Linked DNA regions of Homo sapiens. The protein of the gene in region 1 interacts with the protein of each later gene in a pairwise test. Each region holds a gene or a part of one and is shown on either strand. Other genes may lie near its edges.

Evidence for each region.
Region 2: the proteins of CRYBB3 (region 1) and DOK6 interact in binary tests that used the Homo sapiens proteins (3 or more experiments, as listed by UniProt).

The regions. Positions count from the first base shown.
Region 1 is NC_000022.11:25,189,456-25,206,188, reverse strand, and holds the start of CRYBB3 (beta-crystallin B3), read right to left. Parts: upstream 6,332-16,733; 5' UTR 6,280-6,331; exon of another isoform or gene 4,813-6,279; 5' UTR 4,793-4,812; coding exon 4,718-4,792; intron 3,516-4,717; coding exon 3,397-3,515; intron 2,427-3,396; coding exon 2,294-2,426; intron 970-2,293; coding exon 827-969; intron 1-826. UniProt on the Homo sapiens protein: Crystallins are the dominant structural components of the vertebrate eye lens.
Region 2 is NC_000018.10:69,831,950-69,847,796, forward strand, and holds part of DOK6 (docking protein 6), read left to right. Parts: intron 1-9,294; coding exon 9,295-9,434; 3' UTR 9,435-15,847. UniProt on the Homo sapiens protein: DOK proteins are enzymatically inert adaptor or scaffolding proteins. They provide a docking platform for the assembly of multimolecular signaling complexes. DOK6 promotes Ret-mediated neurite growth. May have a role in brain development and/or maintenance.

The DNA.
Region 1 (16,733 bases):
AGTAAAAAATTGTTGAATAAATTATTATCAGGGATAGGTGGCACCTCTCAAGGCCCAACCCCAGATTACAAGCCCACAAGTGAGATGTAACCACCTACAAAAAGCAGGTGATCCTAAGACTGCATCAACGGTGATATTAAGCCTAGAAAGAGGGAGGTGATAAGCCTGCTCTCCTCTGTACAACTTGTGTCACATCTCAATAACTGCATACATCCTGGGCCCCTTGTTAAGAAGAACAAGAGTTGTGAGGGGGAAGAACATTTCAAGAATCAGTTCAAGGGTGTGGGGATGTTTAAAAAAGCAGGAAGGACTCAGATGGGAACAGGTGGAGAGAACAGATTTTACTTGTTTTAAGTCAAGGCTGCCTAGAAATCTCAACAGTACAGGAGTGCAGGGAACATGAATCATGCAAGAAACTATAGGCACCGATGGCCGGGCGCCGTGGCTCACACCTGTAATCCCAGCACTTTGGGAGGCCGAGGCGGGCAGATCATGAGGTCAGGAGATTGAGACCATCCTGGCTAACACGGTGAAACCCCGTCTCTACTAAAAATACAAAAACTTAGCCGGGCGTGGTCGTGGGCGCCTGTAGTCCCAGCTACTCGGGAGGCTGAGGCAGGAGAATGGCATGAACCCGGGAGGCGGAGCTTGCAGTGAGCTGAGATCGCGCCACTGCACTCCAGCCTGGGCGACAGAGCAAGACTCCGTCTCAAAAATAAATAAATAAATAAATAAAATAATAAGAAACTATGGGCACTGATTCTGTTTGGAGCCAGAGGCATGGCTGACCAGAAGATGGGGCAAGGGTGAGGGTTGGGTCCCTTACGTCCCGTTGATGGCACGGACACTCGCCACACGGTCCTGGAAGCCATGAGCCCACAGGCTGGGCACGTCATCATCCACTATCTCCATCTTGCGGCCACTGAAAGCTGGGTTCTCAAACAGATGCAGCTTGTGATGTGGACTATCCTGAGGGCAATATCGTGGGGTGAGCGGCTGCTCCCATATCCAGAACAGAGGTCAAGGAGGCTCCAGATGCCGGAAAGAATCAACAGGTCACCACAAAATAACACCCACCCCCAAACCTGCTGCAGGAGGGAAGGGCCTCAGGAGATGCCTCCACCCCCAAATTCACTGTAGGAGGGACGGGGAGATTCCTCCAAAGCTGGTTGATTTAGGAACCTAGAGCCGTAGATTATAAAACTGAAAAGGAATTTCCAGATCTTGTTCAATCCCATCATTTAAATGATAGAGAAACTGAGGCCAGGAGAGGGTGGACAGAGATCAAAAGTATCAACATATGAGCTTTCCCTCTTTCCTAACCAGATGCCGGTTTAATCTTCCCAGTTTCCCCTCTTCCACTGCCCTCTAAGGAGGACTCAGTTATGTGACAAAGAGAAAGGGCTGGAGCAGCTGCGGGGTGTGAGTGAAGCAGGGGAGGGAGAAGGGTGGTGTTTAAAGTGTCACTGTGGGCCGGGCGTGGTGGCTCAGGCCTGTAATCCCAGTACTTTGGGAGGCCGAGGCAGGCAGATCACTTGAGGCCAGAAGTTCAAGACCAGCTTTGCCAACATGGCAAAACGCCACCTCTACTAAAAATACAAAAATTAGCCCAGCGTGGTGGCATGTGCCTTCAGTCCCAGCTACTCAGGAGGCTGAGGCAGGAGAATCACTTGAACCCAGGAGGCAGAGGTTGCAGTGAGCAGAGATCATGCCACTGCACTCCAGCCTGGGTGACAGAGCGAGACTGCAACTCAAAATGAAATAAAAATACATAAATAAAAATGTTTAAAAAGAGAGAGAGAGAAAGACTGCACTCCAGCATGGGTGACAGAGCAGGAGTCTGTCTCGAAAAATAAATAAATAAACAAATAAATAAAAAGTGTCACTGTGGACTGTGTCCCTTTCAGGTGCTAGAAAAACACAAGTGGAGAACTTAAAGTATTTTGGCTACTTTCTGAAGTTATTTCCTGGACTGCATTTCTTTGATAACAATACTGATTTGAGACTGGGCCATGTGGCTCATCGTTTTAGTACGGTTACAAAGAAAAGTCCCAGTGCTATGCTGGTTTAATTCAAGATGTGAGTCCTGGTGTCTCAATCCCCAACCGAATGTCCCTTCAATATCCCACTTCTTGTCCCACACAATTGTTCAAATCAGAAACATGAGGGCCCTTCCCAGGCCAGGTCCATATGGGCCAAACCCTCAGCCCAGCTTGTGCAATGAGCTGCCTGACCAGCTCTCAGTGCACCCTGCTTCCAGGAACACCCAGAAGTGAGCAGGAACCACACTCACAATATTCAGAGGCCGGAGGGACAGAAGGCTGTCACTATCACGGCTGTTGGACCAGGCATCCCAGCGAGGATAATCCCCCTTCTCCAGAACAAACTGCTCCCCGCGGAAGGCCCTGGACTCAAATGCCAGCCACCTGAGGGAGGAAGAGGCTTGGCTGGGTCACCTTTGCTGCAGCTGAGGAAGGATTCAAGTTTAGTGAGAGAAGTGTCCAAGAGCTGCTGACCTTGAACCTTGTACCCTCCCTCCAACCCTACTGCTAATTCCTGGACCTGTAATTAAAGGAGCTGCTAGGACATACCGGGAACTGTCTGAGACTCTGGGCCAGAAAACCATCCTAGGGTATGTTATTGAGAATCTAGCCTCTGTGCAAGGTACCCAGAAAAGTCTTTAGCACAATGCCCGGTACACAGTAAGTATTCCATAGGTGACAGTGACTTCTTCCTCTTCCTTTTCCTCTTCTTTGTATTGTATTGTTATTAATATGTATTTATTTGCATCATTCCATTCATTTTCATAAAAACTCTCTCTGAAGTACGTACCATTGTTATCCCCATTCAACAGATGAGAAAACAGAGGCCTGGTGTGTGAAGCAACTTGCCGAAGATCACCCAGATGGTTAGTGCCAGAGCCTGGACTTGCAATCCAAAGGCGGGAATTCAGGGCCCAGCTGGGAGACCTGCCTGCCTTGTGGACATGGATGGGACACTTACCAACTTTGGCCTCAGTTTCCCCATCTATAAAGTGGGAATAAGAATGATACCTCTGTCACAGGGTCATGACGATTCAATGACATAATGCATGTTAAATTTTAGGTGTTACAATTATTATTAAAATTATAAATATTAAATCCCATGTTCCAGTCACTGAGTTAGGTGCTAGGTTGACCTTGCTGTTCTTCCAACCTCAGGTATCCTGGGATTTTCTGCAGACATCTAGGATTCTAGAGAATTCTTCAACTCTCATTTTACAGATGCGGAAAACGAGGCCAGAGAAGGCAGGGGAGCTGTCAAAAGCCCCACAACAGATCTAGAGCTCAGACTGGGGCCTCCACACTCCCAGAAGGCTCAGGGCTGTGGCGAGGGACTGGGGGTCTAGGTACTCACGGCCCGGACTCCACTTGGATGGAGCCCACCTTCTCCAGCAGGCTGTCGGTCAGGCTGGGGCACTCGGCCGAGAGCTCGCAGCGTTTGCCTTGGAAGTTCTCTAGTTCGTACAAGATCACCTAGAAGAGCAGAGTCCTAAACATCCCACCTCTGCTAGGCTCCCAGCTCCAGCCTCTGCCCCTCCTTTGGGCATTAGAGGGAGGTACCCTCTGCTTTCTGCATCTCTCCAGCCTGGAGCTGGCACTGAGGTGGGCCTGCACTGCCCTCTAATGGTCATGGAGGGAAACGCCTTCAGGAACTTCAATGAGACCAATTAAACTAGTGATTGCAACTCTGATGTCCAGCAGGAGCCAGGTGGGGAGTCCAGCGGACTGAAATAACCCGAGAGGTCGGTGGGGAAATGAAGCTGCTTCTGGCGATGAGGGAATGAGGTCCCAGTTCCAATTTTTTCAAGAGAGGTCAGAAATCTGTATTTTCCTTAATAGGAAATTTCCCCCTTAAAAAAATGAAAACACCTGTTTGCAGTCTCGGGGAAGACCTCTGCCTGCCCCAAGCCTAGGAAGAGAAGGGCTGCAAAGGCAGACCAAGGTTTTGCCTCTCTCACCCACCTGGAAACACAAACTGACTTTGTAGAAGATCCCCAGGGAACATCTGTTCTAGTCATTTTACAGAAGGGATCAAAGAAGCTCAGAAAGGGTAAGATACTTGCCTCGGGCTGCACAGCAAGTTAAGAGGAGGCACTGGGATTCGACCCATCCTTAGACTCTGTCTGGAATAGTTTCCCAAAAAGACCCCGGAGATGGTTTGGAAAGGGCAGAGCCAACACATTCAAACCTTCTCTCAGATTTCTAGTGTGCCTCCCTCTGCTAGCTGGCTTCACTCATGTCTTTCAGCCTTTACACCAACTCTGGGCACAATATCTGGGCACCATCCTCATTTCAAACATGGGGCTGTTGAGGCCCAGAGAGCCTCCAAACCCTGTGCCCTTTTCCCCAGAGTGGGCAAGACACCAGGCTGAGGTCAGACAGGAGAGTCAGAGCTCAGAGCCGTTTCCAGAAACCCCCGGGCCTCTCTGATCCATTGGTGCAGGCAGGATGTGGGTGACCATTTCTGTTTTGCAGACGAGGGAAGATGCAGCAAAGTCATGAAGCAAGTTTCTAACGGGAGGGTGGCAGTGAGAGGACCCACCCGGAGCGTTTTGTCCTGGCCTGGGTGGTTGGAAGGATGGCTCTTCCTTCCTGCAGAGGTGCTGCTTGGCTGGGAAGATGACCCTGAGGCCCAGGAGTAGCCTGGGCCCTCTGACCCCCTCCCTGCCCAGTACCTTGTAGCTGCCCCCAAGGTCTCCATGGCTCTTGCCAGCTGCAGCCTGTTCGGGTGCTCCGTGCTGTTCCGCCATCTCCCCAGGAACACCTCTGGCTTCAAACCAAAAGAAAATGGTTCACTGGATCCACCCGGGAGAAGCCAGGTGTTGATGTGACTGGAGTCCAGGATGAGCTACAGAGCCTTGCTGCCCATGGGGCGTGGCTGTAACTTATGATCGACATTCAGTCATTCAGCAAACATCCATTGAGCACCTGCCATGGGCCACGTGGACTGAGACAGTGGGATCAGGAGCCCCATTGTACAGAGGGGAACTCTGAGGCTCAGCAAAGTGAGGCCACTTCCTCAAGCACACAGTGAGGAAGTGGCCTGGGTCGGGCCTGGCTCCAAAGCCCGTGCCCTTTTCCCCTGATCCAGATGCTCCCCGAAACCCAGGTTTCTCAGAGCTCTCTGCAGATGTCCCACCCCCAGAACCTGGCTAAAGGGTGGGCTTCAGGGAGTTTCCTCTACAGGGGTCTCTCCCACCTCCGTACTCCAGGAACTCTTTTGTTCACTGGTTACTTTATTCAACAAATATTCCATGAGCACCTACACAGTGCCAGGCTCTGGGCTGGGTGACCAGGAGGGACAGGAGACCCCATATGTCGGGAGGTGGACAGACAGACCTCTAGAGAAAAGGCTTGTAAGACCAGGTCGTTGGACACCTGCTCCAGGTCAGTTTCCCTGCGTTCGGTTACTCATTCCTTAAGCATTTATTGAACACGACTGTGTACCAGCCACTTCAAGACCCAGACACCGACAGTTCTTCATTGCTACAGGGACAGTGACACGCAATACAGGCCCCTGCCGCAGTCACATGGAAGGATTCTCATCATTGTTGCACCCATGGACACACACAGGACTGTTCTGTTTGTCAGCACACACACATAGGTGCACACACTCGCAAAAGTTTCTATGGTCACTATCAGTTATATTTCACCCATGGGCTCACAGGACAGCTTCTTTCTCTCTCTCTCTCTCTCTCCTCACACACACACATCCCTGCCCATTTCAGACATCCACAGTGGTAAACAAGGCACCTACATCTACACCCCACATCCAACTGTTACCCACCCACGGCTCCCAGCACGGCCACCCCAGCATGCACAGCTGCACAGCCCACATACTCTGGATGTGGGCCTAACCATGCACAGCCTGCGGGCTGTCGGTTCTGTCTCTCCTAGCCTCAGCAGGAAACAGGGCTTGGTCCAGCTCACAGGGGACTCTCGGGGGACTTGGCAGGTACCATGTGTGCCCACTCCCCTCCCTCAGAGGAGCTGTTTTGGAAGGTCCCCTGCCCTAAGCACATGTCCAGGGGCTTGGACCCTGGCCACTGCAGACAAGGGTCCCTCGTTCCACCCCCAGCTGGGCTGTCAGGGTCCTCTCACTGGGACCTGACCCTTAAGGGAGGCGCTGTTTTTCTTTGCAGGCGGTCAGCCATGCGCGTCCCACAGAAACTACAAAAGGTCCGGGCCTGCCAGGGTGGCTTTTGCCTCCCCACCCCCAACCCATCCCAGAATGAACCTGTTGCTGTAGCCTCGGGAAGAACAGAGGAGCCACGGCCGTCTGCAGACTCGCCTGTCTTCGCAAGGGGCATGCTATTTATGAGCACTTTCTGACAGCCCAGCACATCCCAGCCTGCTGAGGCAGCACCCTGTCCACCCAATTCCATCCAGGCCACTTCACTCCAATAGCGGGTCCACGGAGGCCCCCAGTGCCTGTCTCCTCAGCCACCGTCTCTGATGACTTCCTGGGGACAGATGAACCTCACTGGCTTTGTGGGAAGCCCAGCAGCGCCAGGCAAGGGGCACGGTGTGCAGCTCTCCCGTGTCTCCCCACAACCACCAACTCCCTTTCTTTGGTTTCTTGGGGTCACCATTTCCTATTGAGTCACACGCAACCTTTGGAAAAATTCTAGTTCTTAAAGTGAGGGACCCCAGACACTCTCCAGTTTCCATGTGCCATGTGGCCTAAGTTTTAAGTCAGATCACGCTAACCATACTCTCCAACTTGGGCGCAAATCCACCCAACCGTTTCCATAGGATGCCGTCACAGAACTCACAGACTGACTTTCTTCATGTAGAAGACACGCACGAATAATAGCTACCATTTCTTGAACACCTACTACACGCAAGGCATTGTGCCAGCTTCACAAGCATTGTATGGAATTCTCATCCAGCCATCCTTAGGGGAGGAATTCTGATTCCACTTTATACATGGAGAAACTGAGTTCAGAGAGGTGAACCCATTTACTCAGAATCACACAGCAGAGAGAAGGGGCTGGCCTGCTCCAGGACCTGGGATCTTAGCCTCAATAGAAATAAAAGTGACCATCACAGTCAACTTATTTATGACCAAAGAAAAAAGGTAGATCCAGGTATTTTTATTTTATTTTTTAGAGATAGGTTGTTGCTACATTGCCCAGGCTGGACTCAAACTCCTGGGCTCAAGCAATCCTTTCTCCTCAGTGTCCTGAATAACCGGAACTACAGGCACGTGCCACTGCACCCAGCTTCCAGGAATTTTTTAAGTGTCTAACAAAGTATAATTTTGCCTGTAATCAATATCTAATAAGTGATTATTTTATGAATAAAATTATATTGGAGCAAAGGAGTGAGTTAACAAGGTTTTCTTTTGTTGTTGTTGGTATTTGTTTTTGGCTAAAATCCTCAAGTCAGCATAAAACCCAGTTACAGGCCGGGCGCGGTGGCTCACGCCTGTAATCCCAACACTCTGGGAGGCCGAGGCAGGCGGATCACGAAGTCAGGAGCTCGAGACCATCCTGGCTAACACGGTGAAACCCTGTCTCTACTAAAAACACAAAAAATTAGCCAGGTGTGGTGGCGGGTGCCTGTAGTCCCAGCTACATGGGAGGCTGAGGCAGGAGAATGGTGTGAACCCAGGAGGCAGAGCTTGCAGTGAGCTGAGATCGCACCACTGCACTCCAGCCTGGGCAACAGAGCAAGACTCCGTCTCAAAAAACAAACAAACAAACAAAAACACAGTTACCCTGTACCCCCTAGAGGGAGATGGTGGTGAGATGCTGTGGATGACAGCTGGACTCTGAGTCAGGCAGATGTGTGTGACCTTGGACGAGTTCCTGAAGGTCTCAGAGCTACTGTCTCCTCACCATAAATGGAGAACCTTCTCTCCACTTGGGCCATTTTGGGAGGTCATGCAAGCAAAGCACTGCGCACAGTATCTGTTATTTTTGACTTTTATTCCCAGCATCCTGCCTACTCTGGACAGTTCAAGCCAAGGGGCTACTTCCTGCTGAAGGTCACAGAAAGCAGTCGGTTTGGACCCCCTGAGTTGGGATGTAGTTGCCACCAGCTGGGACAGAAGGAGGAAGGCAGAGGTGGGGATGGCGTGGCTCCCCCTCCCATCACATCTTTGAGGACCTTGCAGACCTACTGCACGCTCAGCACTTTGATGTACCACATCTCCCCAATCTAGACTTTTCAACCTTGACACTACTGCCATTTGGGGTCGGGTCATTCTTTGTGGTGGGGTCGGGGTGGGAGCTGTCCTGTGCACTGCAGGATGCTGAGCAGCATCCCTGGCCTCTACTCACTTCCTGGAGCATCTTCTCTCCTTCTTGTGATAACCAATAATGCCTCCTTTCATTACCAGACATGCTCTGGAGGGCACAATCCACCCAGCTGAGAACCACCACCTTAAACTGTTACCTGCAAAAATGTCCTGATCACCACTCCCATTGTATAGCTAAGGAGAACCAATGTTTAAAAGAAATCCCACAGCCAGAGGGTGGCAGGAGGAGGACTCAACCCCTTGTCAGTCTGAATGGAAATCCTGCCTTGTTTCCATGGCCTCCCATTCTGCATGGACACCCTCTCCCAGGACCCCAGCTCTGCCCTCTCGCTGGCTGGCCCACAGCTCAGCACAGGACAGACTGACTCAGCCAGCCCCAGTCAGGGCCTGCATGCATGGGAGACTCTATTCATTCACACATGGACGCACCGACTTCTCCAATGCAACTTGCACCAAAGCTTTATTTGCTATTTTCATAGTCTGAATGCAACATCTTTGTACATGCAAAGGTCATCTTGTTTTATTGCAGTCGACCAGATTTCCAACTGCTCTTCTGTGCATATGAAACTTCTTTACAGTTACAAAATATAAAAGCACTTGTAGACGTCCAATACTCTGTGAGGTCTGGTAAGCCCCATTTGTTTTTACATTAAAAATATAAGTTTTTCTAGATGACTTCTCAGTCACACGGTTAGAGATTCTTTCTGGGACTGGATAAAGTGCCTCTCGTCTGCCTTCCGTTCAGAACTCCTAGAGCTTGTGAATTCCTAAGGCAATTGCAAGAACACCGCAGGCAGGAAGCTTAACTTTCCTACACAAAGAACTCGAGCTCCTTTTCTATCGTGACTCAAAGATCTGAGGAAGGACCCAGAAGAAAGGTTAGGAAAATATATACTATACTTGTGTGTGTGTGTGTCTCTGTGTGTGTGTGTATATATATATATTTCCACGCCCTGCCCCATCTTACAAAGCATTTGGAGGATCACGATCATCTGGGAAGTGCATGACTTTAGGATATTGGTATGATTTAGGAAACAGCACAGTACAAAATTATCTTCCATAACACAATATATTACTTTTGTGACCCCCCCTATTTACAGGATCTATAAGGCTATGTGGAATGAGATTATTAAAAAGCTCAAATTCAGCTGGGCATGGTGGCTCAGGCCTGTAATCCCAGCACTTTGGGAGGCTGAGGCAGTAGAATCACTTGAGACCAAGTTTAAGACCAGCTTGGGCAATATAGTGAGATCCTGTTTCTACAAAACAGATTTAAAAGATCAGCTGGGCGTGGTGATGTGCGCCTGTCATCTAGGCTACTCTGGAGGTGGAGATGAGAGGATTGCTTGAGCCCAGGAGTTGGAGGCTGGAGTGAGCTATGATTGTGCCACTGCATTCCAGCCTGGCCAACAGAGCAAGACCGTGTCTCAAGAAAAGAAAAAAAAAAAAGTTCAAATTCTTTAGAAAACAGCATAATTTGTAGCCCGTGTGATGCCAATAGGAATTGTCAAGGAAGTGCCCGTCCAAGTCATGGAAGATGATGTTATGGCACAGGTGTGAGAGCAACCACTGAAGGAGATTCTGGGAAGGCCAAAGGGGAGGGCGGGCTGAGGGGTGTCCATTTTAAGGGTTAACTTGCCGGAAACCTCAGGCCGACTTTCCAGAGCAGAGGGCCTAGCTTTCTGCCCTTCCCCCTGCAGGAGCCAATTTAGTCAAAAGAAAGCAAACTCTGGATTGGGGGGTGCAAAAGGAGACGCAGGCTGGCAAAGACCTGGCACACTCATGCCTACCAGCTTTTTACGTGGCTCTAAACTTCCTGAGCCCACCCAGAATTCCAACTGGGTGAGTCCTAGCAGCCTCTTAGCACACAGCAAGAGTCCCCCACTCGCTAATGGGACCGAGCCCAAAGCAGATCCCCTTTAGATGTGGAGTGGGTCCTATCCCTCCAGCCCCTCGGAATCATGATGCCATGGAACTTCGGCTTTTGTGTTTTAACACACGGTGAGGGGGAAGGCACATTCAGAGACCACAGAATGTCTCCCCATCACTTACTCTGGTTTAAATATCTACACTGGGGAGGAGGGATTTTTACAGTTTGCAATTACGACTAGTTCCAGGAGCCATCTGGGGGCATTATAAAGAAAAATTTTAAAGCATAGATCAACAAAGCAGCTATCAGCACCAGGTTGGAGCAGCTAAGGTCTCTTTTAGGAAAATCATGCTAAGGGTCTTTCTAAATCCTTTGCCCAGCCTGTAAAGTTTAAAACCACAGGCTCATGCCTATTTCTCTTTTGGCTTCTTGGTGATACCCTTAGTTGGCCTCCCTTCCAGGGAGGCACAAAGGCAAACACAATTGTCTGAAACCACATGATTTGGCGCGTCCCCCTGGAAAACACCGCCATCTGATTGTCCTTTCCCTGAATCCTGAGGCTATCAGGTCAGGTTCACTCAAAATCCCAACATCCTAAAGACCACGAGGTTTCTCTTTCACCAGAGTTTCTCCGGTGGCATGGAGTAATCCTCCACAACACTGATTTCTGAGGCCTTGTCATGGATTTTCAAAGGCCAAAAGCCTCTGTTTGATTAGGCAAAGGACCATGAAGAAGGGTATCTACTGAAGAGGAAAAAGATACAGGCTTCTCAAAAGATCAGCTGTTAAAATGCTGATGTGCAAAGGGGTGGTGGAGGTGAGGAGGAAGAGAAATGAGGGGGAGAGAGATTGTACATATAGAGGATTTTCCATTCTGCATGAAACTCTCATTGAGGACAGCCAAAGCCCCAGGGGAGGAGGGTTAGATTGAGGAGCGGATGACTCCATTACACACAGATGATTAAGGCATATTAAGTGAGTTTAAAAAGAAGACAGATTTCCAAAGGGGTCTCCAGGCAAAGTCTAGAAACTAGCATACAACGCCTCCTTGCTTAGCCTCAAAGAGAGCTCACTCCATTTAGAATGGGGATAAGTAAATCACCCATTTGCCCAGCTATCTGCAAAGGCTCCCAATCATCAGTTACTTCTAACTTCATTGCACTGATCATAAGCAGGTCTCAGAGGTCATGGCAGAGCCCACGTGAAAGAGGGTCGCTCTTGACCCACTGTGATTGTCTTCCCTGTGGTGCTGGAGGAGACAAGGTTATAGAAAAATAAAAGGAGGTGAGGAAGATCTTCAGGGCTTGCCCTAGTCACTTTCAAGGAGGGTGAACTTTGTATATCCTAATTAACATAGAATTAATTGATTATTTTTCCAATTAAGGTATGAGAGATTAGGGAAAAAAAATCTCCAGGTCAATCTCATTTTCAAGTGTGTTTCATTCCTGTCTGATATCCTTGAGCTGAGACATGACTAATTAAGAATTGAGAGTTTTGCATGAGGACCATCAATATATGTAAGAGCAGGTCCTTTCCTACTGCTTGAGATGGTACCAAGGGGTCCTTTCCACCTGAAGGAAAGAGAGACAGCAGCCCAGATAAGAAGTCAGGATCAAAAGACTAGGAATGTGTTTCAGGCCAGGTGCAGTGGCTCATGTCTGTAATCCGAGCACTTTGGGAGGCTGAGGAGGGACAATTGCTTGAGCCCAGAAGTTCGAGACCAGCCTGGGCAACATGGTAAGACCCTTGTCTCTACAAAAATATTTAAAAATTAGCTGGTCATGGTAGCATACACCTGTAGTCCCAGCTACTTGGGAGGCTGAGGTGGGAGAATCACTTGAGCCCAGGTGTTAGTGAGCTATGATCGTGCCACTCCACTCCAGCTTGAGCAACAGAGTAAGACCTTGTCTCAGAAAAACAAAACAAAACAAAACACTAGCAGGGTATTTTTAAAGGGGATCCTATTGACGTTGAAAGCCATAAGATCAAAATTATTATAAAACATAAACTGGATCTTTAAAAAAGAATTCGACTGAAGCAGTTGCAGGCATGAATCCCCAAATGGCCACGGAGAACTGATGACTAATTCAGGGAATGAAGAGAAAACAAACTATCATCAGCAGGGCCAAACTCCCAAACCCAGATGCATGAGGCTCCCAGGTGTAAAAGGCTGGGTGGGTGACATGATCTGGCAATTGCTCATCAGTAACCAAAGCTCATCGAACAGGACACAAGGTGGGCTCCGGCCTCACAGCCCTGCAGTTGCTGTCCCTGGTGCTGAACAGCAACTGCCTCACCAGGGCCCAGGTGTTTATCCTAACCTAAAGAAACAGAGGATTTCTATCCATGCCCATCCACCCACTAAGACAGAGAAGAGGGGTAAAGGAAGATGAGGGAGGAAGCTGAGACAGAGAGACAAATGAACTCCTGAGAGGTAGCCAGGGAGAAGGAAAGCATGTTTTGACAGCATTTGCAAATAATGGATTCATCAAGAAAGATGAAGGAAAATGAGGTGAGCAAAAGCAAAAAGTACCCTTCATTCATGCATCTGTTCTGAGGCCAGTTTGGAACAACTCCTCCATGCCAGCAGCCCACGTCATGTTCAAAGAAGACTCTGGAGAAAAAGATTACTAGGGCAGGTCTGATGATTCATAAGCAAAGGCACCACCACTTGGGCTGCAGTTTATGAACCCTTAAGGCCAAGGGGCAAAGGTCACCCTACCGAAACCAGAGCTCAAATGAAAAGAAGCCATGGAAATAAATACAAGAGTGACAATTATAACTTCTAAACAGCTTGGATAGGGATAAGATAACCTGAGGTGACTGGATACTTCAGAACAAATTATTCGCACATCTTTCCTCCTGTCCTTTAACGTAAACACATATATACCTATCAAGTTTCAAAGAAAATTAGCTGAATTATTGCTTTATCGCCTTCTAAAGCAAACAAAAATGACATACAATAACATAGGCCAACGATGCACACAGCCCCACTAGAAAGAGAAATACACATAATCAGGGAGAGTATGTTTAAAAATTGGAACTGCTGATTCCTCAAGGGGAAGAAGGAACTCACCAAAAAAAAAGAATAGAAAACCTCAACCCAGCGGTAATACCCTGCACCGAGACTACAGCAGAAAATGAACAGTTTGATCTTCCTTGGAAATGTCCTTCCAAAAAAAGACCTGCCCCGGGGTCGGGTGAGGAGGTGCTTTCACAAATGCAGGTGTTTTTCAGAACCTGGGGAGACAATTCCAGCCTCACACTGATGTTCTTGGAGCTGATGAAGGTGTCTAAAATAGGTAGAAATGCAAATTTTTACATAAAAAGCAAAACCACCCACATGGACGTTTCTGGGCAGCCTGGCTCCTTTCCCAGCCTGAAGTGCTGTCTGGGGAGATGAGCGAGTGCTCCTGGAGGTTGGGTCTTCCCGTCTGGATCCAGGGAGAGCCTGGCGAGGACAGGGGCACTGGATAGCGTTCTCAATCCAATGGGAAGGGCCCAGGCACGTAAGCGTTGTGCAGGAAGAAACGGCAGCAGCTCGGCCTCGTCTGCGGGTTCTGATGGTTAAGGCTTCTGTTACGTAGATGTGGCAGTGTTCCCTGCCTGGAGAGGAAGGGACAGTACTGGTGTCAGCAGTGGGAACATTTGGCTCCATTGCTCTCTACCCTCAGTCCTTAAAATCTCACCTGATATTCTCCAATGAAGTCACCCCTAGAAGCCTAAGGTCACAAAAGAGATTTTTTGTGTTGGGTGGAAAGGGGAGGTGAGGAGGGTGGCAGGCATGGAATACAGTGAAACCAACATGAAATTTAGGGTCAGGTCAGGGTTCCAGTCTCAATTCTGAGCCTCAGTTTCCTCAAAGGGGTTGCTGGAGGCTTAAATGAGATATTACATGTACTGCACCAAACACAAAATAAACACAGGTCCCGATCCCTTATCCAAATCCCTTGAGCATAGTTTTATTTGGGAATTTATAATTTTTAGTATTTATTATACATACACACATGCATCATACATAATCATGTAATATATACACATATGTATATATATACATATGTAACACCACCATAATCAAGCAGATAATATTCCTGCAGTGTATTATGAACATTCATATAAAGTGGGGAAAATAGAGTCAAAGTAGAATTATATTCACTCAGGTCAGGTTTTACCACTGACTTAGGAAAAAGCTTTGTTTTGCAGGGCTTTCTGGAATTTGGCTTTGTGGATAAGGGATGGTGAGTCTCTTGTGCTCATCACATCAACGCTGACTTTGATGGTGCACGTACCATGAGCTCCTATACTGAGGAGAAACAGGCAGCACTCAGTCAAGCACCACAGGTGCATTCTCAGTGAGCCCTGAGGACAACTCGGTGGTGTGGACACTGCTAACCCATTTTACAGATGAGGAAACTTAAGTTCATGATGTTCAGTCATTTGCAACTTACACCAGGGCCTATCTAATCGTAATTTTTAATGTATATTTTTTCAAATTCATTTTTAACTACATAGGTTGTATATGAAACACTCCCCCTATAAAAACTGTAACCATTTCTGGCCGGGCACAGTGGCTCACGCCTATAATCCCAGCACTTTGGGAGCCAGAGGTGAATGGATCACCTGAGGTCAGGAGTTCGAGACCAGCCTGTCCAACATGGTGAAACTCCATCTCTACAAAAAATATAAAAATCAGCTGGGCATGGTGGCAGGCACCTGTAATTCCAGCTACTTAGGAGGCTGAGGCAGGAGAATCGTTTGAACCCGGGAGGCAGAGGCCGCAATGAGCCAAGATCCGAGATTGCATCATTGCACTCCAGCCTTGGTGACAAGGGCGAAACTCTGTCTCAAAAAAAAAAAAAAAAAAAAGTAACCATTTCTAATTAAGCTAACCTCTGATGTCCCCGCCCTTTTGTTTTATCAGAGGGGACTGTGATGCAGCTAGAAGGGTCAGCCAAGTGCATGAGACCAGAGCCCCAGTCACCTGCCTCCTGGCCTGGTACCTTTCACCCACTCCAGGCAGCCCAGCTTTGTTTTCTCCCTAAATGGAAACAGACATAACCATCCTCTTTACAGGAACTCAGAACACCCCCCACCCCTCATTCTTCCCCTTACACAGCCTCTTTCCTTGGGTACAACAGCCCCAGTCTCTGAAGCGTGGCCCCCCTGAGTTCCCCATTCCTGTGACTGCAGGGCTCTTCCCAGGTTCCCCAACAGAGCCCCTTCATACCTGGTCAAACTTGGTTCTCATAAAGACTTTGCCTCTTCTTGGATTTCAATTCCTTTAGCCACTGGGGAGAGGGTTCATCCGACCTGAAACCACAAAGCCAGTAAGAGACTAGTTGAAACCAGACTGTGGGCTCCTTGCGGGCAGGACTGAGTGGTATCCGACTGTCTATCCCTGGGCCCAGGCGGGGTTGGGGCAAGCACTCAGAGGTGGTAAAGATGCCCATATTAACGGGACTGATAAGCAAGAAGTAGAAATTAACCACAGTGTCCAACAATGGGGAATATTAAATAAATCAGGGGTCCCCAACCCCCTGGGCCACAGACCGATACTGGTCCATGGCCTGTTAGGAACAAGGCCACACAGCAGGTGGTGAGTGGTGGGCGAGTGAGCGAAGCTTCATCTGTATTCACAGCTGCTCCATCACTCACATTCCACCTGATCTCTGCGTCCTGTCAGAGCAGCGGCAGCATTAGATTCTCATAGGAGTGTGAACCCTATTGTGAACTGTGCATGCAAGGGATCTAGGTTGCGAGCTTCTCATGAGAATCTAATGCCTGATGATCTGTCACTGTCTCCCGTCACCCCCAGATGGAACCATCTAGTTGCAGAAAAACAAGCTCAGGGTTCTCACTGAGTCTACTGTGAGTTGTAGAATTATTTCATTCTAATTACAATGTAATAATAATAGAAATAAAGTACACAATGAATGTAATGTGTTTGAATCATCACAAAACCACCCCCCTATACCCCTGGTCTGTGGAAAAATTGTCTTTCACAAAACTGGTCCATGGTGCCAAAAAGGTTGGGGACCGCTGAAATAAATCACGATATATCTGTTCTATGAGATAAACTGCAGTTATAAAAATTTATCTTGGTTGGACACAGTGGCTCATGCCTGTAACTCCAACACTTAGGGAGGCAGAGGCAGGAGGATAGCTTGAGCCCAGGAGTTTGAGACCAGCCTACGCAACACAGTGAGACCCCATTCTCCACAAAAAGCAAACAAACAAACAAAAAATTCGTCCTATATAAAATTATTTCCATCCATCCATTTGTCATGCAAATAGCTATTCATCCTTCCATCTCTCTATCCAGGTAAGTGTCTGTGATGGTTAGTTTTATGCATCAACTTAAACCTAATGTGTACCCAGATATTTGGTCAGACACTATTCTAGATGTTTATGCAAAGATATTTTTTCTTAGATGAGGTTAACATTTAAATCAGTAGGCGCTGAGTAGCACAGACTACCCTCCGTGATATAAAAGGGCCTCATCTACTCAGTTGAAGGCCTGAATAGAAAAAGACTGGCCTCGCCAGGCACGGTGGCT
Region 2 (15,847 bases), on another chromosome or scaffold:
ATTTTTCTAAATATGAGATCATAACAACTTCAAACAAGGATAATTTGACTTCTTTTACAATTTGGATGCCCTTTCTTTCTTTTGCGTAATTGCTCTGACTAGGGCTTCTGGTACTATGTTGAATAAAAGTGGTAAAAGTGGGCATTCTTGTTTTGTTCCAGTTCTTAGTGGAAAGGCTTTCAATTTTTCCCCATTCAGTATGATACTAGCTGTGGGTTTGTAAAAAATAGCCCTTATTTGGTTGAGATATGTTCCCTCTATACCCAATTCTTTGAGGGTTTTCATAATGAAGCAATGTAGAACTTTATCAAGTGCTTCTATAGCATCTATTAAAATGATCTAGTTTTAGTTTTAGTCCTTGATTTTGTTGATGTAATGTATCATGTTTATTGATTGTTAAACCATCCTTGTATCCTGAGGATGAATCCCACTTGATTAAGGTGAATGATCTCTTTAATGTGTTGTTTAATTCTATTTGCTACTATTTTGTTGAGAATTTTTGAATCTATGTTCATCAGAGATATTGGCCTGTAGTTTTCTCTTTTTTTCTATATTTTTCTGGTTTTAGTATCAGAGTCATACTTGCCTCATAGAGTAGGTTTGGAAGTATTATCTCCTCTTCAATTTTTTGAAATAGTTTAAGTGAAACTGGTATTACTGATAGGCAAAGGTTGGCAGTGATTCCACTAGGTCCTGGGCTTTTCTTTGGTGGAAGACTTTTATTACTCCTTCAATCTCATTATTCATTATGGCCTGTCAGTAGTGTTTCTATACACTAACAGCGAACAATCTGAAAAAAAAATAAAGACAGCAATTTCATTTACAATGGCTACAAAATATAAAGAAAACAATTTCATTTACAATAGCTATTAATACAAATATAATACCTAAGAATAAATTTAACCAGAGAAGTGAACATCTTTACAACAAGGGACAATATAAAATACTGATGAAAGAAATTGAAGAGTACAAAAAAATGGAAAGATATTCCATGTTCATGGATTGGAAGAATAAACATTGTTAAAATGTCCATACTACCCAAAGCAATCTACAGATTCGATGCAATCCCTATCAAAATACCAATAACATTCTTCACAGAAGTAGAAAAGACAATTCTAAAATTCACACGGTACCACAAAAGACCCCAAATAACGAAAGCTATCCTGAGCAAAAAGAACAAAGCTGGAGACATCACAGTATCCCAATTCAAATTAAACTACAATGGTATAGTAACAAAAACAGCATGGTACTGGCAAAAAACAGAAACACAGAACAATGGAAAGAGTTGAGGACCCAGACATAAATCCACGTGCTTACAGCCAACTCATTTTTAACAAAGATGCTGAGAACATACCTTAAAGAAAGGACAGTCTGCTTAATAAATGGTGCTGAGAAAACTGGTTATTTATACACAGAATTAAACTAGAGTCCCATCTTTCACCACATATAAAAATAAACTCAAAATGGAGTAAAGATTTAAATGTAATACCTAAAACTTCAGACTATTAAAAGAAAATATTGGGGAAATGCTACAGGACATTGGTCTGGACAAAGATTTTGGGGAGTAAGACCACAAAAGCACAGGAAACAAAAGCAAAATAGACAAATGGTATTACATCATGCTAAAAAGCTTCTGCACAGCAAAGGAAAAAAAGCTAACAAATAAATGAGACGACCTAAAGAATGGGAGAAGATATTCCTAAACTATTGATTTGACTAGGTATTAATAACCAGAATATATAAATAACTCAAACAACTCAGTAGCAAAAAAAAGCAAAATGTAAAAATAAGCAAACTCCTGAATAGACATTTCTCAAAATAAGATATACAAGTGGCAAACAGATATGTAGATATAAAAGCTCAACATAACTAATCATTAGAGAAATGCAGATCACAACTACAATGGGATATCATCTCACCCCACTTAAACTGTTATTATCAAAAAGACAAAAAATAACAAATGCTGTCAAGGATGTGGAAAATGGGAATGCTCAAGTGTTGTGGGAATATTAAGTAGTACAGCTATTATGGAAAATAAAATGGAGATTTCTCAAAAAAACTAGCAATCCCACTTCTAGGTACACATCCAAAAGAAAGGAAATTAGTATGTCAAGGAGGTATTTGCATTCCCATGTTTATTGCAGCATCATTTACAATAGCCAAGATAGAGAATCAACCTATGTCCATAAACAGATGAATGGATAAAGAAAATGTGGTACATATACACAATGCAATGCTATTCATCCATAAGAAAGAATGAGATCCTGTCATTTGCAGTGACATGGATGGAACTAGGGTCATTATGTTAAGTGAAATAAGCCAGGCACAAAAAGACAAATATTACACGTTCTCACTCATATGTGAGAGCTGAAAATGTGGATCTCCTGGAGATAGAGAGTAGAACGGTGGTTTCCAGAGGCTTGGAAGGGAAAGTGGAAGAAGGAGATAAGTGACGTTGGTTAATGGAAACAAAAATACAGTTAGATAGAAGGAATAAGTTTCAGTATTCCATAGTATAGTAGATAAATTATAGTTAACAATAATTTATTGTATTTTTCAAATTAGCTAGTAAAGAACTCCAATATGTCCAACACACAAAAAGAGATAAATGCTTGAGATGATGAATATCCCACTTACCCTGACTTGATCATTACACATTCTATACATGTTTCAGAACATCATGTGTTCTCTCAAAATATATGCAACTGTAATATATTAATAAAAAATATACAAACATACATTTAAATAGTAAGTTTATTTATTACAAGATGTCGTAGAGAGCCCTGGGTTGCTTCTACTTACATCTGGTTTTCACATTTACTTAACTGCCCAATTATTAGATACTCTGTATGTATTAGTCCATTTTCACACTGCTATAAAGACATACCCAAGACTGGGTAAGTTATAGAGAGAAGACATTTAATTGACTCACAGTTTTGCATGGCTGGGGAGGCCTCAGGAAAGTTACAATCATGGCGAAAGGGGAAGAGTCACATCTTCCTTGGCCTCAGGCAAGAGAGCAAATGATCAAAACAGGACCTTGCCAAACACTTATAAAACCATTAGATCTCGTGAGAACTCACCCACTATCGCAAGAACAGCATGGGGGAACCAACCCCATAATCCAGTCACCTCCCGTCAAGTCTCTCCCTCAACATCTGGGGATTACAATTCAAGAGGAGATTTGGGTGAGGACATAAAGCCTAACCATATCACCATAAGAAGCTTCTGGGCCGGGCGCGGTGGCTCACGCCTGTAATTCCAGCACTTTGGGAGGCCGAGGTGGGTGGATCACGAGGTCAGGAGATCAAGACCATCTTGGCTAACACGGTGAAACCCCGTCTCTATTTAAAAATACAAAAAAAATTAGTTGGGTATGGTGGTGGGCGCCTGTAGTCCCAGCTACTGGGGAGGCTGAGGCAGGAGAATGGCGTGAACCCGGGAGGTGGAGCTTGCAGTGAGCCAAAATCGCACCACTGCACTCCAGCCTGGGCGACAGAACGAGACTCCGTCTCAAAAAAACAACAACAACAACAAAAAAAAAAACAGCTTCTGGCCCCCAATTCATTGCAGTAAGAGCCTGTGAAATAAATAAAAGGGCTCTCTTCTGTACCCAAGTCGTTCCTTCCATTCTGTCTCCACCATCCATCCATGCTTACATCTGCAGCCTGCCCGCTCCTTTTTTCTCTAATGGCTAGAAGCTTACTTGTTAAAGGATGACAGCGTCTCCTCTGTGTCTATCTAGGCCCAACTGTTAATGCTTTGACTCTGGGCTGCTTGTGTCCTCATCAGATGACTTTGTTATTTATTTATCACATTGTTTGTTGTTTTCTTTGTTATTTATAGGGACAGTACCCTTTTATCTCCCCCAGATTCTAACAAAGTAATAAAACACATAAATTCAAACTATTAAATAGCTTTACCAGGCCCATTGTCTTTTACCAATTAATACTGCAAGTTTTATGCTTTGGGATCTTTCTGACTTTCTACAAAAACAATTTCCTTCATAGTATATATCAAGAATAAAATCAGTGTTATTAAGATAAAAATTCAGAGACTAGCCAAAAGGGAACCCTTGTTGGTCATTCTGTGTCAGCAACAATGCATTTCTTAATTCCTCGGGAAGGAGAGGATATTCACAATGTGTTGTCAGTCTCCATTTTTTCTTCCATTCATAATGTGAATCTCTGGTCTTGCATTTCAATTTGATTGTTATTTTCTACTGAATTTGTGCTCCTTCTAGTTCATTACTGGTTTGGATTTTTTATGATACAGCAGGGAAGCTTCTTTTTAAGGCTAGAGTGGTTTTGCTTTTATTGTGTGATACTCTTGAGTTCCTGGAATTAGAGAGAGGGTCATATAATTTTGGCAGAATAAAGCAAATGTTTTAAATGTCTCTGTAGCCAATATATTTTCTTATTTATGGAATGGGACTACATTTCTAGGGCATGTATACATACCTTAGTGAGAAGCTGGCAGGTAGTGGTAGTATGAATGTCATTTCAGAGTATACTTGAACTATGAGATAAATGTGATATGTTTTTTTTTTCCCCAGATTGTCAACATTACCTAGATATATGGGTAGAAAATAGTATTTTCTATTAAAACAAACATGAATGCACAATAGATTAGAAAAGGTAAGAGGACTTTTAAAATAAACCAATAACCATTAACAATTTTATTGCTTTTAAATTGTAGCATCCCTTAGATTCCAAAGTTACATATTTGCCTTATTTGTCTTTAGTGGGTGATCTGGAGGAAAAGTTTAGGAAGCATTTAACTAGAGTCCTTGTATAGTGTGATGAGCAAGGCTGTTGCATCAGGTTTTTAATTGAAGCCACAGAGTTGATTTTTATTTTGTTTTGCTTCCATCAACACTGTCTAGGGGCATAATTCAAATGAACATTGAAAAAATGCTTAATTATTTCTTTTTTATTCTCATACTCATTGTTGCCAAAATCAGACAGCATTTACAAAACCTTCATATATAGAGTACTGACTGAGGTATGCTATTTTTGTAATATGTATTAAATAGCATCATTTGTGAATTATCTGTAAAGAAACGGTTGCAGTAAGAAAAATCATAATTTAATTTCTAATTAGACTAGAAATTCTTCACAGAGGAGGTGAAGAAAGCGATGCTGACCTTGAGGGGGAGAATATTCTAAGTATGTCATAGTGAATGTCTTAGTCTTTTTTGTGTTGCTATAACAGAATACCACAGACTAGGTAATTAATAAGAAAAGAAATGTATTTGTTACAGTTCTGGAGACCGGGAAGTCCAATATTGAGGGGCCCACATCTAGTGAGGTCCTTCTTCTTGCATTATCCTGTGGTGGAAGGCTGAGGGGCAAGACAGGATGAGACAGCAAGAAGGAGCAGAACTCACTTTTATAGCAAAGCCACTTCTGTCATAATTAACCCACTTCGGTGGCAATGAAATTAACCTATTCATGATGACAGAGCCCTCATGACCTAATAACCTCTTATTAGGCCCCACTGCCCAACACTGTTGCATTGAAAATTAAGCTATCAACACACAAACTTTGGAGGACAAATGTGAACCAATTACCAGTGAGAGACAGCATGTTGAGATGGTGGAGAAAGCGCAGGTGTTCAGCAAAAAAAAAAAAAAGTGCAAGAATATCACCCCTTTAGTGCAGAAAAAAGAAAATTAACATTTATTGCCTATCTGTCATACTAGGTGTCTCCTATATGTTGTTTCATTTAAATCCTGAAAATACCTTGGGAAACTATATTCTCCCCATGCAGAAAAAAATGAGGCTCCAAAAGGCATGGAAGAACTCATGTCTGTCTGTTTCAAAAGCCCATGGTAGTGGGGGAGTTTGCACACTGTGCAGAGGAAGTTATTTGTGATTATTGAAGTGACATGTACAGTTTTATAACATGCTCTTCTAAGCCCCATTGGCTTTCCTCTGTGACCCTGTATAGCACTGGCTGTATGGACTCTTGATTTGATGTTTATTGTTGTCTGTCTTTGACCATCATTCAAAACAGCATGTGGACTCTAAAAGTCATACTTCCACACTTTGCCTTTCCTGTGGAGCCTGGAATTTTTTAATAGATGATGGTTAATATTAATCGCATGATTGACTTTTTACATCTAAGATTCTAGGATTTAAAAAAAGTGTTAATAAGCAAAGTCTAATTTGAATTTTCTTTTTTTATATTTTTTTATTATAACTTAAGCTTCACTTCTCAGCCCACAAGTAGTGTGAATTAAAGCTGCCTCAGCATTTGTTCTCTTTCAGATATGTCTAAAACTTTAAAAAAAAAAAAAAAACAGGATAAAACCAAGGCCAGGAGCATTATCTTAATATTATACTTTCCAGCTATCTTATGCTGATAAATGCCAGTATCCCCAATTACAGAAACTATGAATTGTCATCTAGAGTCAATGGTAAGATGAGACAAAATCATCAAAACTTTTAAGTGCTTTTTCCCATATCAGCTTAGTGTATCAGAACTTTGTCATTTCATCATGCCAAAATGCCACCTCCTTAGGGAGGCCTTTGCTGACCTCCCTAGTTACCAATCCTATTTGGCGATTACCATGACATGGTGGCAGCACTTAGCATGGATTAACTCATTGATTTAATACTCAAAAGGATCATATAAGCTAAGTGCCACTATACCATCCAGAATTTTTAGATAGGGAAACAAACCCAGAGATGAAGTAATTCCCTTAAGATGGGTTACAAGCTAGGAAGTAGCAGAGGCAACATATATACCTGGTGTTCTAGCTCCAGAGATCCTACTTCTAACCTCTAACTACTCCCTTAAAATCTCCCCTAGCCCCTCCCCTAGAGCCTCCCCAGCTCCTCCCCCTTCCCTAATCCCTTCCCTAGCTGCTCCCCTAACTCCTCCCCTAGTTCCTCCCCTAATTCTTCCTGCAGCTCCTCCCCTAGTTCATGACTGCTTCTTTCCCTAGCCCCTCCATTAGCTCCTCTTTCCCTAGCCCCTACCTTAGTTCCTTCCCTAGTCCCTCGAACTCCTCCCCAAGCCTCACCCCTAGATTCTCCCCTAACTCCTCCCCTAGATGTTCTCCTAACTCCTCCCCTAGCTCCACTCCTAGTCTCTCCCTAGCTCCACTCCTAGTCTCTCCCTAACTCCTCCTCTAGCTCCTCCCCATCCCCTCCTGTGTCGCTCCCCTTGTCCCTCACCTAGACTCCCCCTAGCTCTTCCCCACTCTCCCTAACTCCTCCCCTAGCTTCTCCCCGAGCCTCATCTCCTTAGCTCCTCTCCCAGTCTCTCCCTAACTCATCCCCTAGTCCCTCCCCTAGTCTCTCCCTAACCCCTCCCCTAACTCCTCCCTAGCACTTCCCCTGGTCCTGCCCCTAGTCTCTCCCTAGCTCCTCCCATAACTCCTCCCCTAGCCCCTCCCCTGGTCTATCCCATGACTCCTTCCCTAGTCTCTCCCTAGCCCCTCCCCTAACTCCTTCCCTAGCCCCTCCCCTGGTTCCGCCCCTAACTCCTCTCCTAGCTTCTTTGGTAATCACTACCTTAACCCATCCTTTAACTCTCTTAACTCCTCCCCTCCTCTGCCCTGCTTCATTTTTCCTTCACTATATCATCAGGGTCTTGCAGGAAAGAAGATGCACTCAGCTGAGATTAAAAGAATTTGATGAGGAGGCTGCTTCAAGAGCTGGGGGAACCGATGAGAAAATGCAGACATGCGCAACAGCAGGAAGCATCACCACCCTCAGGCCTGCGGGCCAGGCGAGGAGGAGTGCGGGGCAGGACCCTGGGAGAGAGGGGAAGGAGGGACTAGTAGAGCCTCCAGGCGCCGTGGGGCAGAAAGTTCTGGAAGCTCAGAGGACTGGCGGTGGCAGAGCCAGGGGCGTGGGGCAGGAGGTGCGAGGGAAAAGCCCCTCTTCTCTTTGATCCCCTCTTGCTGAGCCTGGTGCACTTTCCTTGACGTGGACAGCAACAGAATCCAGGACATAGTGAATCTAAAACAACTTTTTTTTTAATGCAAGATTTTTCTCTCAGTATTTTGACATTTAAATGGTTCTACCGCTAAGTGGTTAAGTGGTTCCGTTCTAATTAGCCTTTTACCACCCAGTTCATCCGAGTTTCCTCCCTGCATCCCAAGCTTCCCACAGTGAGAGAGTATTTTCCACGTCGCCAAACACACCTGGCAATAGAACAGGCTGAAAGCGAGTGACATTGCCAAGGACAGAGCCACCTGCGGAGCCTGACACAGAGATGGTCGGTGCTCGGCGTTAACAGATTGTCTTCTCTGTGTTCCTCGCCCAGGCGATCAGATGACACACAAATCAGACTCAGCACAGTCCCTCCTTTGGGTAAAATAGAAACTCTGAAAGAGCATGACTTACTACATCTATTTTTCTTCTCCCTCTAAGCTCATCCATTAGATACAAGTCATTCTCAAGTATGAAGAATAATTGCTGGCTTAAAAAGGATGAGGGGGAAAAAACAAATAAAGATGAGGAAACGACTGGAAAGTTCATCAGAAGCTTTAGTTAGCATGCATGCGTTTCTCTGTACATTGTTAGCATTCTGAAAAGTTTTCGGTAATCACTTCTGTTTTCGGTTTGCGATAGACTATTTCTCATGCAGGGGTGCAGCTGAACAACCAAAAGCATAGACAGAATTTTCTTTAAATGTATTTTGTATGGAATTTAACTTTTGGCCATTTTGGTAGCCATCGAGCTTAATTGTTTGGGTTAACCATATCATGAAGTGAGTTCAGTGACGGTGACTCACACACCGGCTAGGATAAGTCAGAATCTCTATCATTGTAAAAGCTTTCTTTCTGATAATTCATGGTTACTGGTTAGGGTAAAGCACAGCTTGCCTGTTCCCAGAGATTTTAAGAAAGTGTGTAATTTGCTTTTATATGCTGAAATTGAGCATAAAGGAAAAGAAAGCAGCTTACAGGCTCTCCATTAAAAACAGCTTTTTCTGGGGAAAAGCTTTTCTGCTTTTATTTCAAAAGTTGAAGAACAGCAGAAGTTTCAGATTCCCTAGAAAATCTACCTAGCTCTCTGGCATCCAGAATTTTTGGCAAAGTACATTTGGAGGAAATATTGAGCTCTGAATACATTTTAATTCATCAAGGATCAAGGCAACAAGATTGCTCAATTTTTACCAACTTATCTTGAGCTCAATATTGAGGATGTGAAAGCTGCTGCCTTGTTTATTGTTCTTAAAAATATAGATAGATAGATAATAGATAGATGATAGATAGTGTATCTTTTGTGCTTCTGAATCTGTTTCTCAGTAGAGCTCTCCTTTCTTCCTCTCTAGGTCATGGGTTTGGTTCGTCAAAGATGTCTCGTGCACAGACATTTCCCAGCTACGCCCCAGAACAGAGTGAAGAGGCCCAGCAGCCGTTGTCGCGGTCCAGCAGCTATGGATTCAGCTACAGCTCCAGCCTCATCCAATGACACACAGAGAGCCGCTGTTGACTAGAGAGACAGTCTGTCCTGGACCCGTCTGTGGGGTCATTACCCTCTGCCTCCTGGAAGACCAATTGCAGTACAAATTGAAATGGGTCGGCTCTAGCCCCAGTCCCATTGGAAGGTTAAAAACTGGAGTTCTGCTTCCTTGATTCAGTGGCTAAGTCCTTTATTTATTGAATTTCTTTGGGGGAATCTATGTTTTACATAAATAGAATCCAAATCGTATGAACAGTTATTTAAATAAACAAAATTCTTTGGGTCTGACAGTAACAGAAACCTCAGCACTGGGAAAAGTTGCCCACACTGGGGTATGCCTGGGTGATGGGCACCTCTCACTGACCTCACAGCGCAGTCCGCCCATCTGAGCACAGGGTCTGTCCTTAGACATAATGGTGACCCTCCACAAGCTCTGTGGCTTTTAAAGTTCTGACAGGGATAAATACAGTAAGCTCTGCAAATGACATCGTAGCTGCATATAAATAAACCCAGTGACAATTAAAGGAACATGAAATTCAGAACACACTATTAAGCAGGGCCCTGTAGCTCTACTCGTGTGTGTGTGTGCGTGTGTGTGTGTGTGTGTAGACAAATGGATATTGCTATATCCATCTATATATAACAAGTATATATCAAACATGTGCTGAGGGTGACAGGATATGCTCACTTAAATTGTTGAAAACCATAATTTGGTGCATTAAAGTTAAGATTGTTATGTTGAATAGCTATTTTTAAAATAGTGCTGTAAAAAAAAAAAAAAAAAAGGCTTCTTATTAGCAAAAGTATATGTAATCCAGTCTGTTCCTAACAAGTGTAAGCAAAAATGTGAGAAGGGGAACATTCAGAAGCAAAAGAACCAGTCTAGCTGTCCTACACATCATGTCATACCCTGTCTTTCTGGTGAGCGTTTCCTTGTTGCTGACAATGTTGCTCCCTGTGGCCATCCATCTGAGCTACGTGAGGAGGATTCCATGTGAACGCCGATCAGCTTCCATTTAACCTTGAGAGAAAAGAGAGGTTCTAAATGAAGAACTCTTTAAGAAAGAAAGAATACACCCATAAAGAACTCAGCTATTTTGCAGTAAAGAGAAGAACAAAATGGGTACAGGATTGTGGATATCATAGATGCTGTTCTCACACAACCACTGGGGGCTTGTAATTTACTGTGTAACCAGAACTTGCAGGGCTTTATTTTTTCTTTTACTGGACACAGGTTGTCTGAGATTATAAGAAATAAAATAGATCAATAATTTTCATCATCCCTGACACTGATTACAAACCTACAGTGTTTAAAGGGAGGTAGTGAATTCCACGGAAACTGAGTTTGGCTAATTCAGGTCAACAAAGATATATTTGCCCTTAATTCTGGAGTTAAGTAAAAATAAAAATTATCCTGCCTGAATCATCTGATGCTTTGTGCCTAAGATGGTTATCTCTCAAATACTCTAGGGTGGGTTTAAAGAACAGTGAGCTCAGGTCACGCAAGATGAAAACCCAGGTTTTTTTTTTCTTAATAGGAAAATTTTTTAAACTATCCAAATTAGTCTGTTGAAAGGGTACCTTTTTTGCTGATCTCTGATGAGTTGTCTTTTCATCCCTATCTGTAGCTTGAGTGCAGATTGACAATTCATTTCAGTGAATTACTACCGAATAAAAGTGGTTCCGGATCCCTCCTAGATAAATGTGCACTTACAGCAACTACCTAGGCTCTCCAAATCACTCCACTCGGTATGAAAACCCCATCAAGATACTAATCGTAAGAGTTAATGTGGCTGCAAAAAATAATTATCCTAAGCTTTCAGGGATAAAAAGAAAATTACCCAGGTTCTCTGCACTGTGAATTTTGCTGACACAGCGGAGGAGCAGATGACTGGTTCCTACAACTGTACAGCCTTCCTTGAAATCATAGCTTTTGGGGTTAAACACTTGTGAATTTCTTTTGCACATGGCATTTGCTTTTGAAATGCCTTTAGTCAAATACACCAGAGCAACTCCCAGCTGAGACCATTTGAGCACAGTTCCTAGTGGGGCCACATTCAGAGCAAGCCTCTCGCCGGCTCACTCAGTTGAGCTGTTGCTTAGACACCACAAGTTTCTACAAGGGACTTATGGGGAACGGCCCTCAGGGGTCCTGGTTCACATCTCAGCTTTATTCATGTGCTGGAAGCACAAACAGCGAGTCCAGGGAGGGATTCTGCTAATCAGATGAGTCTGCTCTTGTGTCTCTTTCTTAGGAGACAAATACCTGTATGTAATTGCTTCAAGAACTCCATTTGGTTCTGATCATTACCAATGAATATAACTGAAGGAGCACCAAAGATCAGGCATAACCTCGGGCCAGTTCATTCTGAAAATGATGTCGTAAAAAGAGTATGTGTGAGAGAAATCTCCTTCCCAAGTTTTTAACCAGATCTCGTCACAATGAGGAGAATGCTATAATCTATCTCATGGTACATTTTTGGAGCTTAATTCTAGCATACTCCTCCAAGTACACTCACAATTGTAGCTGAGTCAAGACTGCTAAATGAACAGATAGGAGAACTTATATTAGACTAATATCCTTGACACGAAGCAGGGTTCATTGTAATAAAAACGGCAAACAGATAAATCTTCTACCAAAACCAAAGATGGAAAGTCACTGCACCAGTCTCCTGGAACTTCATAAAATCAATTTCACTGGAGCAACCAGAAGGGTCATGGAGATGTATACCACTCGCTTGGGCTCGTAGGTTTTTGACTGGGGATGCCTCTACACTTTGTAAGTCATTTCTCCCTTCAAAAATTGTATTATATCTTTAATATATGTGTATTTTTCAATGCGAGGGAGGAATTACTATGAACCAAAGATATCTTTTGGCTCCTTCTGAAAGTGACTCAGTTTGAATTCCATTCAGATTTGTACAGATAAATAGATGGTCACCATTTCTGCATCAGGTTGGAAGAGACCAATGATAAAGGAACCCAACGTAAGGAATAGCAGTTCTGAAAATAGACAAAGCCTAGAGGAGGTATCTATTTCACTGAGAGATTACACGAGGGGACTTATTTTTTATGTTCCCAATTTTTTCTTCTGATAATATTAATCAATGTACACATGATTGATGCATGATATTACACTTAAAATGCAGGAGAGTACAAAACAACCTTGATCCAATAGTTTCCTATTCTGGGGGGTGGGGGCAGAGGCGGAAAAGAAAACACATCTTTCACTTACTTATTGAACAAACAATAAGCACTCAGAACTAATTTATTTATGCAGGTTGCAAATATGTATGAAGCAATAGGTTCTGGCCACTGCCACAATTTGAAATCAATAAAATAAGAAATATATATTTATATATGAGGGAAGATGCTGTTTGATAGAGCATGTGAAATCAATGGAAACATATTTATTAAAAGTAAACCTCACCTTTTTCACCAAATAGTAACTAGAGAACTAGTCCTAGTATCTTGCGTAATTCTTCTCTGTCTTCATTGGGAAATTATGTTTGAAAATCTTTCATCACCTATAAAATGGTGAGCCTCTTGTACTTTCTATTCAGTGTAGAAAGAGTGGACTGATAAATAACTTTACATTGTTGGTAGTAGTTTCTACAGATCCAGTTTATTGCATGTCGTATCTTTATTGTAGATATTAAAAACACATGATAAAAATTGATGTGTGCCCCTCCTTGTTTGGCCAGTATCACAGAAAACTTTGTAAAAAAGCATGGGGACCCTACTCCCTAGATTATTTGAGCCATTTACTAAAATTGGCCATTAGTGATACAGTGAAAACAAGCTAAGGAAATGATATTCTCCTAAAAAGTTATATTCCAGTTTTGATTATTATAACACAGCACAATAAATGGGCAGTATACGTCTAATGGAACTGAGATTTAAGGCTTTAACAATTCGTGTTTTAAAATATTATATTGAAGACTGCACAAAGAGAAAATTATACATGTTTCTCCAATCCTGTGATCATGTCTGTAAATACCTTGCAATTTCAAATTACTTCATCCGTCATTAACTATATGATCTCCCAAACACAGCCTTCTCAAAATCGATAAAAATTTGCCACTGAATATGCATTAATAGCTATAACAATGGGTGACATGCCACACAAATTTAGCTTATGCAATTTATGGGGTGTGTGTTTGCAGACTATGAAATGTATGAAGTGCAGTCTCCCATGGAGAGAATAGAGAGGCAGGATGGCAACTAGTCATGAACGCAACAATTTAGGTTAAATGATAAAGAATACAATGAAATGTCCAGAGTAACACTTGGTCTCTACCTTTCTAACATTCTAACCCAAGGCCAGTGTCATGGGCTTGGCTTTCTTCCCTGTCGCCTCATACTGAGTATGCAATTTACAGAGGACATCTGTTGCTTTATGTCTTAAGGCCACTAGAGGAAGTCACTACATTCCCAACAAAGATGTGTCTTTCGGCTTAGTGAAAAACATTTAACAAGAAACAATGTGTAACCAAGTCCCCACAGTAAAATGTGTCTTCAGAAACATGAGAATCACTTTTATATAGCCAACCTCATTTGAATTTTATCATGAACATAAATTATCGGTGAGACTGGTGTGCGGGGCTGGATCTGTGAGACAAGCTCACACTCTCATGTGTGCATTCTCTATTAACATATTTGGAAGATTGCCCACATTTTCTCTGCAGACCTGCCACAAATCCTTACCTTCTTACTGAAGAATGTGACTATTGTAGCATTCGTGCAATTATGCCAGCAGAGGAGGCACTAGACAGTTTATAGACTCTTATGGAAGTTGGGCACATTTCCCAGGCAGGTGGAATGCTAGCTAGATCTAGAAGCACCCTTAAAGGTCATGTAGAATCAAGGTCCCACTTTATGTTTCCCTTGGGAGAAAACTGAAACCCATGGATGCTGTAATTTGTTTAACGGCAAAGAAAGAGCCAAGAATTGTTTCTCGTAGTTCCAGGGTCCTGATCTAGGAATGTTTCCTTGGCTCCATGGCATCTCCCAGTTTGACATAGTGGGAGCTGAGAAATGCCATATGGCCTCAAAATAAATAAACCCTTGTACATTTAAGTGTTTTCCCAGATTTTCAGATGCCTCTACTCTTGCTGAACTCATCACCAGCTGTATCAGTAGAGAGGTGTTATGGGGCAATTCATTAGATTTCTGGTAGGTCATGAATGGTTGGTATAAGCTTTATTTACTCATATATTGTCATCCAGTTCTTTGAAATTCAATCTTATCCTAAAGTGGTAGTCAAAGTAAAACACATTAAGTAGGTGTTTGTGTTTAGCAGTCCTACTAATTCATCACAATCACATAGTAATTGTGATTATAATTTTTGGAATCTTTATCACTTTCTAGCACTTTACGGTGTCATTATTTATGGCATTTTTAACAACTTTGTTGCATAATTGATAACATCAGGGCTACATTTTTTTCATGTGAGCCTCAAGAAGCTTCCATTATCAACAAGAATTGGGGAAATGACTTTTTTACATTATAATACCTTATATATTAGGTTTTTCCTGATAATCTTCAGTAGACAATGATTTAAATTAACTGAAGTTTAAATAAGAAATATGTTAAAATTACTAAATAATATGAAAACCACATTATACTTGTAATTTTCAGACACTTTTCTCCTACCTTAAGATTTTAACATCTTGTAAATATTAATATTTGAAGGGGAGAGGAAAAATACATTTGTAGTAGAAATATTCCCTCTAACAATTCTGTTTAACTAGTAAGTTTTTTTTAAGTTATCTTCCATGCCTGCTTCCCTAGTCTGAACTCCACATTCCAGTTGTCAGAAGAATGAATGGATTTAAATTTTCTAATCATTATTTTGGGCCCATGTTAGCAGTTGAAACAATTAAGTTCCTCACTCTTTCCTGCTTTTAGGATGATTTTAGACTGTGAGCATAAAATCAACCCTTTCTGTCAGCACAGAATTGAACATCGAATGGAGCAAGGTCTACACTCTCAGCCTGTAGCTGTGCTAATGTTAGGATTGAATTGTTCTATTAATTCCCTCAAGAGACCCACAGCCTCAAAAGAGTTGCTTATTATCAGATGTCCGAAATTCAGAAACCCAAAGTCAGGCAAAGAAGGAAACTGAGATAATGATTTAATTTTTTTAAGTCACTGCAGGATTTCTCTCAAAGAAAACATCTGAAAATGGTTGAGAAAGTAGTTCCAGATCATTAACTATTTTACAGAGGGACTGAAAGCCAGGGAAAATAAAGAACAGAATGATAGTAGTATCTTGATATTAAATTTGCATCAGAAATGAGCAAAATATGTCAATATGAAATAATTTGAAATCAAATTCAGATTCACATGTATAGTGCATAGTTCAAGAAATAATGCTTACTCTTGTAAAAAAAAAAAATATATATATATGTATCAGCAGG